Homo sapiens: one gene and its partners. The protein of the gene in region 3 purifies or fractionates together with the protein of the main gene of each other region. This does not show direct contact. Each region holds a gene or a part of one and is shown on either strand. Other genes may lie near its edges. The genes, in order: GRAMD1B, ARK2N and CSNK2A1.

Evidence for each region.
Region 1: the proteins of CSNK2A1 (region 3) and GRAMD1B purify together in Homo sapiens (affinity purification with mass spectrometry; 4 studies listed by BioGRID and IntAct, with this or other methods). This does not show direct contact.
Region 2: the proteins of CSNK2A1 (region 3) and ARK2N purify together in Homo sapiens (affinity purification with mass spectrometry; 4 studies listed by BioGRID and IntAct, with this or other methods). This does not show direct contact.

What each region holds. Positions count from the first base shown.
Region 1 is NC_000011.10:123,433,144-123,436,797, reverse strand, and holds part of GRAMD1B (protein Aster-B), read right to left. Parts: intron 1,365-3,654; coding exon of another isoform or gene 1,331-1,364; exon of another isoform or gene 1,083-1,330; intron 1-1,082. UniProt on the Homo sapiens protein: Cholesterol transporter that mediates non-vesicular transport of cholesterol from the plasma membrane (PM) to the endoplasmic reticulum (ER).
Region 2 is NC_000018.10:46,243,518-46,247,171, reverse strand, and holds part of ARK2N (protein ARK2N), read right to left. Parts: intron 1-3,654. UniProt on the Homo sapiens protein: AMPK substrate important for exercise capacity and skeletal muscle function.
Region 3 is NC_000020.11:471,932-474,982, forward strand, and holds the end of CSNK2A1 (casein kinase II subunit alpha), read right to left. Parts: 3' UTR 567-3,051; downstream 1-566. UniProt on the Homo sapiens protein: Catalytic subunit of a constitutively active serine/threonine-protein kinase complex that phosphorylates a large number of substrates containing acidic residues C-terminal to the phosphorylated serine or threonine.

The DNA of each region.
Region 1 (3,654 bases), on a different chromosome or scaffold from region 3:
GTGCACATGTACCCTAAAACTTAAAGTATAATAAAAAAAAATTGTGCCGTCTTATGTTCAATGGTAGTTAAGATGATGCTTTGCAGTTAGACCACTGAAAGAAAAGAGCAAGACTCCAGGCCTTCACCTCCCCACGCTTCCTCCCCACTACACGGAACAGCAGAAAGTAGTTGCCTCGAGCAACACTTTGAGAGTGTCTCTCCCAAGCTCCAGAATCTACGACAGCTCCTCATTGAATTGACTTCACTTTGCCTAGGAAGCGCTCTGCATATAGGATCTCAATACCTGTTTGATGACTGAGTGATTCATTGAAATTCAAACTCTTTGGCATAAATCACCTTCGGTCTGTCAGCCTCACCACCTTCATTTTTCCACATTCCTCAACAAGATCACATTTGGTCATCCATCTCTATCTTCAAGCCAACACATCCAAACTGCTTTCACCTATAGGCATTTGTTAACCCTTCAAAACTCAGCTCTCTATAGATCAGTGGTTGTCTAGGGCTGGGGAAATGGGATGGAGAGGGTGAAGGTGCTAGCCAAAAAGTATGAGTTTCAGTCAGGCACAGTGGTTCATGCCTGTAATCCCAGCACTTTGGGAGGCTGAGGTGGGCAGATCATGAGGTCAGGAGTTCAAGACCCACCTGGCCAACATGGTGAAACCCTGTCTCTACTAAAAATACAAAAATTATCTGGGCGTGGTGGCGAGCTTCTGTAATCCCAGCTACTCAGGAGGCTTAGGCAGGAGAATCACTTGAACCCAGGAGGCAGAGGCTGCAGTGAGCCGAGATTGAGCCACTGCACTCCAGCCTGGGTGAGAGAGGGAGACTCCGTCTCAAAAAAAAAAAAAAAAAAAAAAAGTATGAGTTTCTTTGTGGGGCAACAAACGTTTTTAAAAACTGACTGTGGTGATGGTTGTACATAGCTGTGAATATATTAAAAACCACTGAATTATGCTTTAAATAGGTGAATTGTATATTATATAAATTATATCTCAATAAAGCTGTTTTTAAAAACTCAGCTCTGTACTCATCTCCTTTTGGAAATTTTCCCACACTCATGAATAAAAGAATTTCACTTTAAACAGTAGAGAAAAAGGAATCATTTATTTACTCATTATTAACTCATCAACAAACATCTATAGATCTATAGATCACTGTAAGAGGTCAGGTACAGTGCTGTGACGATACAAAGATGAACATGATTGGTCTTGGAGTATTCCAGTGAACACTGGAAAGTTAGTAAGCCATGCTGTCTTTACCATTTGTTCCACTTCTTCCTTCCTAGGGTTTAAGGAGAAGAAAAGGGTCTCCTAATCCTCTTCATATTTTCAACTTTGTGCAGTGAAAATCCGCAAGCTTGAGCTTCAAGTCAGTGACAAGTAAAAAAACAAACAAACAAACAAATAATGAAACAAATAATGAAAAAACAAAAATTAAAAGAAATCCACAAGCTATGGCCCTCTCAGCCACTTAACTTCTACCACATCACGCTGAATTTCATAGCAAGCCTGAAAGGTGTTTTTCTCTCTTTTGGAGCAGGAGATTTGGGGTGGGGAATGTGGAGACGTCATGCTGGGCCTGGTATGCTAATCCTCCCTAATCCAGGCCAGAGCAGAGCCATTTTCCAACCATCATTTCCAAATCCTGAATTGTGTGAGGAGGCTCAGGTGCTGCTCCAGGACACGTGAGTATGTAACCTCATACTTTTAAGCAAACATCCATTCCATGTGAGAGACTCACAGAGTAATGAAATAAGCCTTCACCCTTGCACAGCAAGAGGAAGTTTGCAAAACATTTTCACATTCACTACTCTTCAGACTTCCCATTAACCCACAGAGATCCTCTTCCACAAATGAAGAAGGTGAAACTCATGGAGGTAAAGTGAAATGCTCAAGCTAATCTCCATAGCTAATCGATGATAGAACTTAAATATACAGCTGTCTTCTGATATTAAGTCCAATGTTCCCTGCACTCCATTGCCTCTAAATGCCAATTCTATTTTCTTTTGGAAATGGAGTCTTGCTCTGTCGCCCAGGCTGGAGTGCAGTGGTGTGATCTCAGCTCACTGAAACCTTTGCCCACAAAGTTCAAGCAATTCTCATGCCTCAGCCTCCTGAGTAGCTGGGATTACAGGCGCGCACTACCATGTCCAGCTAATTTTTGTATTTTTAGTAGCAACAGGGTTTTGCCATGTTGGCTAGGCTGGTCTCGAACTCCTGGCCTCAAATGATCTGCCTCCTCAGCCTCCCAAAGTGCTGGGATTACAGGCATGAGCTACCACACCCCGCCACCAATTCCTTCTCAGGCCACTTGGTGGTATCTACGAGCACCTATTCACTTGATTGCTGCTTTTCTTGGAAGGAAGCCTTTCATCTTCGAGGCCTAAAAATGATGGGGCTTTGTTTTACACACAATCCAAATAGATTCCAACAGAAGGCAGTATAACAGTAGCTAAGAGTAGATGTGAGTCACACGAATTTGAATTTGAATCCAGAGTCTGCCTTTTCAGATACATATGTTCTTGTTTTTTGTTGGTGGTGGTTTTTTTTTTTTTTTTTTTTTTTTGGAAACGGAGTCTCACTCTGTTGCCCAGGCTGGAGTGCAGTGGCGAGATCTCGGCTCACTGCAACCTCCACCTCCTAGGTTCAAGCAATTCTCCTGCCTCAGCCTCCCGAGTAGCTGGGACTACAGGTGTCCACCACCACACCTGGCTAATTTTTGTATTTTTAGTAGAGACGGTGTTTCTCCGTGTTGCCCAAGTTGGTGGCTAACTCCTGAGCTCAGGCAATCTGCCTGCCTCATCCTCCCAAAGTGCTAGGATTACAGGCGTGAGCCACTGCGCCCGGCTGATACATAGGTTCTTCTAATCCAAAAGTCACCACTTAAAATAACTGCCTGAACTACATCTAGATGAAAATCCTGCCAAATTTTAAGGATATGTCCCCAAATCCAACAAAATGAAGGTTCCACTACACACATAGACAACTCTCGAAACCAGGAATACCTTCCTAAATCTAACCAAATCTACTGTCATCCCCATCCTAGCCAGCAATGCAAGATTTTTTTCTTCATACACACAAAGACACACACACACACACACACACACACACACACACGCACGTAACATTTTAAGCGTTGGGGGTGGGGGTCTCACCATGGCTGAAATGCAGTGGTTATTCACAGGCACCATTATAGCCTACTAAAGCCTTGAACTCTTGGGCTCATGTGATCCTCACACCACAACCCAAGTAGCTGGGAATACAGGCCATGCCATTGCACCCGGCTCTTTTTACCATATTTTGTCCTCAGTATATATGGCAGAATCTCAAGATCAAAAGAAGGTCTCTTTTAGTTTCTTTTACATTGGAGGGAAAAGCCGACAAGCCATGACAAACTACTTTATTTATTTATTCATTTAAGATGAAGTTTCGCTCTTGTTGCCCAGGCTGGAGTGCAATGGCGCGATCTTGGCTCACTGCAACCTCCACCTCCCGGGTTCAAGCAATTCTCCCGCCTTGGCCTCCCGAGTAGCTGGGATTACAGGCACCCGCTACTACACCTGGCTAATTTTTTGTATTTTTAGTAGAGACAGGGTTTCACCATGTTGGCCAAGCTGGTCTCGAACTCCTGACCTCAGGTGACCCTCCCGCCT
Region 2 (3,654 bases), on a different chromosome or scaffold from region 3:
TACCATCACCAATATTTCAGATTCTTCTAACTTTATTCATTCATTATGGATCTAGAAACTAGTAATATTCCTTCCACATTGTTAGATAATCCAAACAATTCTGGTAGTGCAATTTTTGCCATAAAAATTGCAATCCAAACCTGCTGGTATTTAACATGGTTACAAAACCCAGATGATATGCTAAAACTGGTCACTTTAAATTGGGGTCTGCTATTTTTTTTTTTTTTTTTGAAATGGAGTTTTGCTCTTGTTGCTCAGGCTGGAGTGCAAAGATGTGATCTCAGCTCACTGCAACCTCCACCTCCCGGGTTCAAGCGATTCTCCCACCTCAGCCTCCTGAGTAGGTGGGATTACAGGCATGCACCACCACGCCAGGCTAATTTTGTATTTTAGTAGAGACGGGGTTTGGCCATGTTGGTAAGGCTGGTCTCGAACTCCTGACCTCAGGTAATCTACCCGCCTCGGCCTCCCAAAGTGCTGGGATTACAGGTGTGAGCCTCCGCGCCTAGCCTAGGGTCTGCTCTTATCTGTAATGCTTGGTCAATATACTAGTGCAAGATAAGAGGCATGAGAAAGTGATGGGGGTGCTAAATACAGACTGCCTCGTGAATGTTAACAACTCCTAGACTAATAGTGTGAGACATTTGCCAAATTTCCTGTCAGAGCCTTAGATAAATTGTGCCACACAGAAAACAAATCAGCTAGGACCCACACCAAGGCAATGAGATGCCGTGCTCTACAAGAGACACCAAAGGCATTCTGGGATGCCTCTGCCTCTTCCTTCTTCTATTTCAGAGCCAGGACCATTAGTCCTTTTCTGTCACTGTAACCCTCTTCAGCATCCCACACATTCCTTTGGGAGCTCCAGTATAGAACCTGACATTCTCTGGCCTTTGGGCCTTTTCTGCTCTGCCCCTCCCCACCCCGCCTCACCCCCCATGGAGGACTTCACAGGATTCCAATGGCAGAACAGTGCCTAAAGCATACAGAAAAGTGAGCCAAAGATGCTATGAGGTTCTTCAAATACTGTCAGTGGTAGTAATCTTTTCCAGTTCTAAGACAAGAACAAGCCCTGTAGAGAAAAATGTAAATACCGCAATTACCATATATTAAACTGAAAATAAAGCAGAGCACTTATATTTAGCTATTGTGACAGCTGGCTGTCTCTGTGTAGGTCTCTGCCTGTGTAGGTCTTTGGAAAGATAACTTCTTTCACTATATGAGAAAATTCTAAATTTTGTCCTCCCACTACAGACCTTTTCAACAAGAAAGGGTAAGAAAAAGTTACCAAGAAAAGGTAGTTATCAAAATAGGGTAAGAAAAAGAAGCACAGAAAAAGTAGTAACTAAATTATCATGGAAAACAGTTTCTTTCTGTCTTTAAAGGAAATAATCCAGCTACTTTTTAAACTGTAAATCCACTGGGTAAGAACTAGGCCTGAGCTTTGCAACACACTGAAGAGAAAGTAATACTACATACTGTATGACAGTCGCATGCTAGGCATAAAAAAAATAAAAAAATAAGTCACTACTCATTTAGCTTTAAAAACAGCAAATTACTACTTTTAGTTCTTTTTTTCTTTCTTTTTTTTTTTTTTTATTGAGACAGAGTCTCACTCTGTCACCCAGGCTGGAGAGAGGTGGTGCAATCTCGGCTCACTGCAACCTCCACCTGCCGGGATCAAGCAATTCTCCTGCCTCAGCCTCCCAAGTAGCTGCGACTACAGGAGCCCACGCCACCGTGCCCAGCTAATTTTTGTATTTTTTTTAGTATAGATGGGGTTTCACCATATTGGACAGGCTGGTCTCGAACTCCTGACCTCGTGATCTGCCCACCTCGGACTCCCAAAATGCCAGGATTATAGGCGTGAGCCACAGCACCCAGCCTACTTTTAGTTCCTTAAACAGCACGTTAAACAACCTTAAAAAGTGAAGGAAGAGGGCTGGACATGGTAGCTCACGCCTGAAATTCCAGCACTTTGAGATGCAGAAGTGGGCAGATTACTTGAGATCAGGAGGGCAAGACCAGCCTGGCCATCATGGTGAAACCCCATCTCTACTAAAAATATAAAAAAATTAACGGGGCGTGGTGACGGGTACCTGTAATCCCAGCTACTGGATAGGCTGAGGCAGGAGAATCACTTGAACGAGGAGGCAGATGCTGCAATGAGCGGAGACTGCCACCGCATCCAGCCTGAGCGACAGAGCTGGAATCCATCTCCAACAACAACAACAAAAAAGAGTGAAGGAAGAGCTCAAAAATCTAAAATCTGGCTGGGTGTGGTGGCTCATGCCTGTAATCTTAGCACTTCGGGAGGCCAAGACAGGCGGATCACTGGAGGTCAGGAATTCGAGACCAGTCTGGCCAACATGGTAAACCCTGTCTCTACTAAAAATACAAAAATTAGCCAGGCGCAGTGGCACACACCTGTAATCCCAGCTACTTGTGAGGCTGAGGCACGAAAATTACTTGAACCCGGGAGGCAGAGGTTGCAGTGAGCCCAGAATGTGCCATTGTACTCCAGCCTGGGTGACTGGAGACTCCCTCTTAAAAAAAAAAAAAAAAAAAAATCTAAACTCTTACCATCAATTTGATGCAGATAAACATGAAGAACATGACCATACTTCATCTCCTTCACTATACTGATTCTGAAACATGGCCATTCTGGTCTAATTATTAAAAACCCTACACTAGGAACAGGAAACCCAGGATTCATTTCTCTGTACTGCCACCATGTTAGGGACAAATCAAGATTACCATCCCTATTGTAAGGATGGGGAAAATGCTCAGAACCTACCTTCTTGACAAGAAGGCTGATGGAAAAGATAAGGTATTTAAAGTTTTAACTTCCCAGGGAAAAAAATCCTAAATAAGTTCAGTTTACCACAGCTATAAGCCTTCCTCACCAAGACTTCTGCTTCTTCTTGCCCCAACTACATTTGTTTGCAGTGAGCCCTTACTAGCAACAAAAATGAAGCCATTTTCAGATATATTAATACAGTTTCCTAAACATGCTGGATACAAGAGTTACCTGAGGCTATTATTAAAAAGAGATTCCCAGAAACCATTTCAGATTTATTGACAGAATCATCAGGAGAAACCTAGGAGTGTGAATATTTATAAACACACTGGGTAATTTCTACGCTCTGGCAAAATTTAAGAAGTACTTGTAGCAAGAGCAACTCGTTGCAGTGCAAGAGAGTAATTAGAAATCCAGTGACTGAGCCACTAATCACTTCCTTACTCAGTCTACTTCAGCATATTAACATAATGCTGGTTAGCATTTCTGAGGGCCTACTATGTGCTGTCCTCCGTAGTAAACACACTGTATTTCACTTAGTGGTAACAATAACCTTTTGGAGTAGATACTATAAAGGTTGTGCCCCAGTTTTGTAGATAGGGAAAACTGAGGCTTTATATAATTTACCTGAGGACATGCAGTTTCTAAGTGGCCACTGGTTCAAAATCACCCACTACAGTGTTCAATTCCAGCATCAACTTAAAAAAAGCAAACACATGGCAAGAATTGAAATGGAAAATTCAGGTCTTTTGTTGATCAGTAGCTTCTCTAATTTCGACTTACTTTTTAATCCCTGCATGTGGTTCAAGTCTTTTGCCTAGGTTAAAACTAAAACTAAATATATATTTTGGATG
Region 3 (3,051 bases):
GCTGGGCTGAGGGAGAAGGAGGAGACGGTAGGGTAGGTGACGGTTCCATCTCCCTTACTTTTTTAGGCTTTTCTGTGTAGAGTGGGACCAAAGCAGTCCTAACTAAAGCCCATAACGTTAAAGATGTTACTGAGACCCATTGCCCTTGCTCATGATGTTAAAATTTCTTCCCAGAGCTCTACGTCTAGTGTACCTTCTTCCGAGAGCCATGGGTTATGGGAAACAACAGTTTGCATTAGGTCCCATAATTGAGCCTGTCTGAGGCTCTGCTAACTTTCAGCATTTGTTTTACTACTTTTATATACTGTTGCTGTTGAGCTGACAACTGTTGTCCCATGATGACAACTGTCATCCCATGATGATCGTCCCTAGCTTGAGCAATTCCTTTGAACTTGGAAATGCTGAACAGGCACCAATGACTTACTGACTGCGCAGTCTCTTCACCTTCATTTTCGAGGGTTCCGTCGTGATCTGTTGCAGCATTCCTCACACAGGGAATCACCTGCCGAGTCTGTCCCACAGACTTTGGCCGAGTGACAGATGAAAGGAGTACTCAGACACAGATATTCAGTGAGAGAGCAGGCTAGGGGACTGCCAGCACTAGGGGCCGAAGAGAGTTAGCAGTCCCCTTAAGCTGGTGGCCCTCACATTTATTTAGCACAAATTTAATGACAAAGGCTTGGAGCAAACACAATTTGTGGGCAATAAACATTGTCAACATCCCAAGTAGACAGCAGTCCTGTGTGTGAATGATCAAAGGTTGGTTTCTGGACACAGGAATAAACAAATTTATCTAGGTAAGTTCCTATACAACTCCCCTGTTATCTGCCCTTTGCTCTCAGGCTTCAGATAAGAATTTGGCTGCCTTCAGCCATAATTTCTTTCTGAAGCTTTTGCAAAACCTCTCGGCCTTCCAAGAAGGTTTGTGTCTTTCCTATAATTTCTCCCACCACCCTGACCAATCTCCTACAAAGGCTGAAGCAGGAGGATTGCTTGAGCCCAGGAGTTTGAGGCTGCAGTGAGCTGCGATCACACCACTGCACTTCAGCCTGGGCAACAGAGCAAGACCTTGTCTCTAAAAAGTAAATAAAAAAAAGAGTTGGGCTAGGTTTGAGGTTTATTGTTGCTATGGTTACCCCCAATGCAGCAGCTTCCAGTTCCTCCAATGACACCTTGGACTGAGGGTGCAGGCTGGCCTGCCAGAGGGATTTTCTCCTTCCATGTGTGCTCCCTGCTCAGCTTTAGGTCCTCCCTTTGTGACCCTCAGAAAGGGTCTTCTTCCCATACTCTTGTCTCTCTCCTGTAACATTTTTACTTCTAACTCAAGGCTTGTCAGCTTACCATTGGCAGGTGGGGGAGGAGGGAATTCTCTGTTCTGATCAAGTCTCAGTCTCTGTCAGGCCCTTTGTGTCTCTGATTTTGGGGTTATGTCCTCCTTAGTGCTCCTGTTCCTCCCCCAGTTCTGGGCCCAGTGTGTATTCCTGCCCCTGCCCAGGGAAAGTTTTGTTTTGTTCCTGTTTCATTCCCCCAGATGCAAGGGAGCTTCATCCAAGGGGGTGACAGGATTTGGTGTCCTTCCCTCCACAGACTAAGGCTTTTGTCCGGTAGGGGATACAGGGAAGGGTCTGGGTGGAGCACTGTGATCCTTTCACAGTAGCTGCCATTGTCTTCTTCCAGATCTTGAGACATTTTATTAAAACTTTCTCCAATCTTCTGTGTGCTCCCAGTGGGGTTCATGGTGAAAAACGCTGAAAAGGGTAAAGACTACTGCAGTCTCCATGACCCAGTCCCTCACCAGTGTCCACTTGTGTTTACCAGGTAACCAGTGCCCATGTCATCTCTTCCATTTTGTGCCTGTCTCTCCTTAGATTTGAAGCCAGTTGATTGTCTTCTGATCTCAGCTCTCCAGAAGACCTTTTCCAGAAGACCTCTCCCTGTGTATCCACTTCTAAACCAGTCACAACTGCCCGAGTCTCACAGCAGCATGGTGGATATCCCGCTGTCCCTCAAACTGGGGCTCTGTCAACAAAGAGGAAGGGAGGAATGACTCCCTTGGGAGGAGACAACAACATTGCAAGTGATCTAGTCTTTGAAAGGCTTTTAAGCAAGGGACTGAGATAAAATTTATTTATTATTTTTAAGAGAGAGGTTCTCACTCTGTCAGCCAGGTCTCACTGAGAGCAATGTGATCATAGCTCACTGCAGCCTCCAACTCCTGGGCTCAACGTATCCTCCCACCCAGCCTCCCCAGTAGCTAGCACTATAGTCACACACCACCACACTAGTTAATGTTTTCATTTTTTGTAGAACAGAGGACTCGCTGTGTTACCCAGGCCTCAAGTGATCATCGGGCCTTGGCCTCCCAAAATGCTGGGGTTATAGATATGAGTCACTGTGCCTGGACTAGAATATTTATTTTTGAAAGATCTTTGGTTGCAGGTGTCAGATGAATCAGGAATTGAGACGAGATGGGAAGGCATCAAGACCAGTTATCTGCTATGATACTCCAAGCAAGAGAGGATGGTGGCTGGGATGAGGAATTTGGCAACGGGAATGGGAGGAAGTGGATGCATTCAAGATAAATATCCATTTATTAAAAGTAGTTGCTTTTTCACCAGAGTAATACATAAATATAGTTTTAAAAGTAAATACTGCTACTATCTTAACAATAATTTAAAAAATCTCAAAATAACATGCAACTGTTTGATTTTTCAGTTTTAGGCATTAGTTCCCCTTATAAATGATGAGAGTTTAGAGCTTAGACCGCTTGTCCTGTTACCAACACCACCACACATGCCAGCATTTCCCATCACTCCTCTTTCCATTGTCATCATACTGTAATCCTGGTTAGACCAGTATTCAGTGTTTCCATTATGACTACGTAAATTCTAATCACAGCTGAACCAGCAGTATGATATTTAGTTTTCCCTCCTTTCATAACTTTTCCCATTCCTGCTGAGTTAATACTTTTTTGGCTTGTCTTACTCTGCTCAGTTTTCATTTTGTAAACTTTTAAACATTTGAACTCTAGCAAATATACTGAGAAGTGCC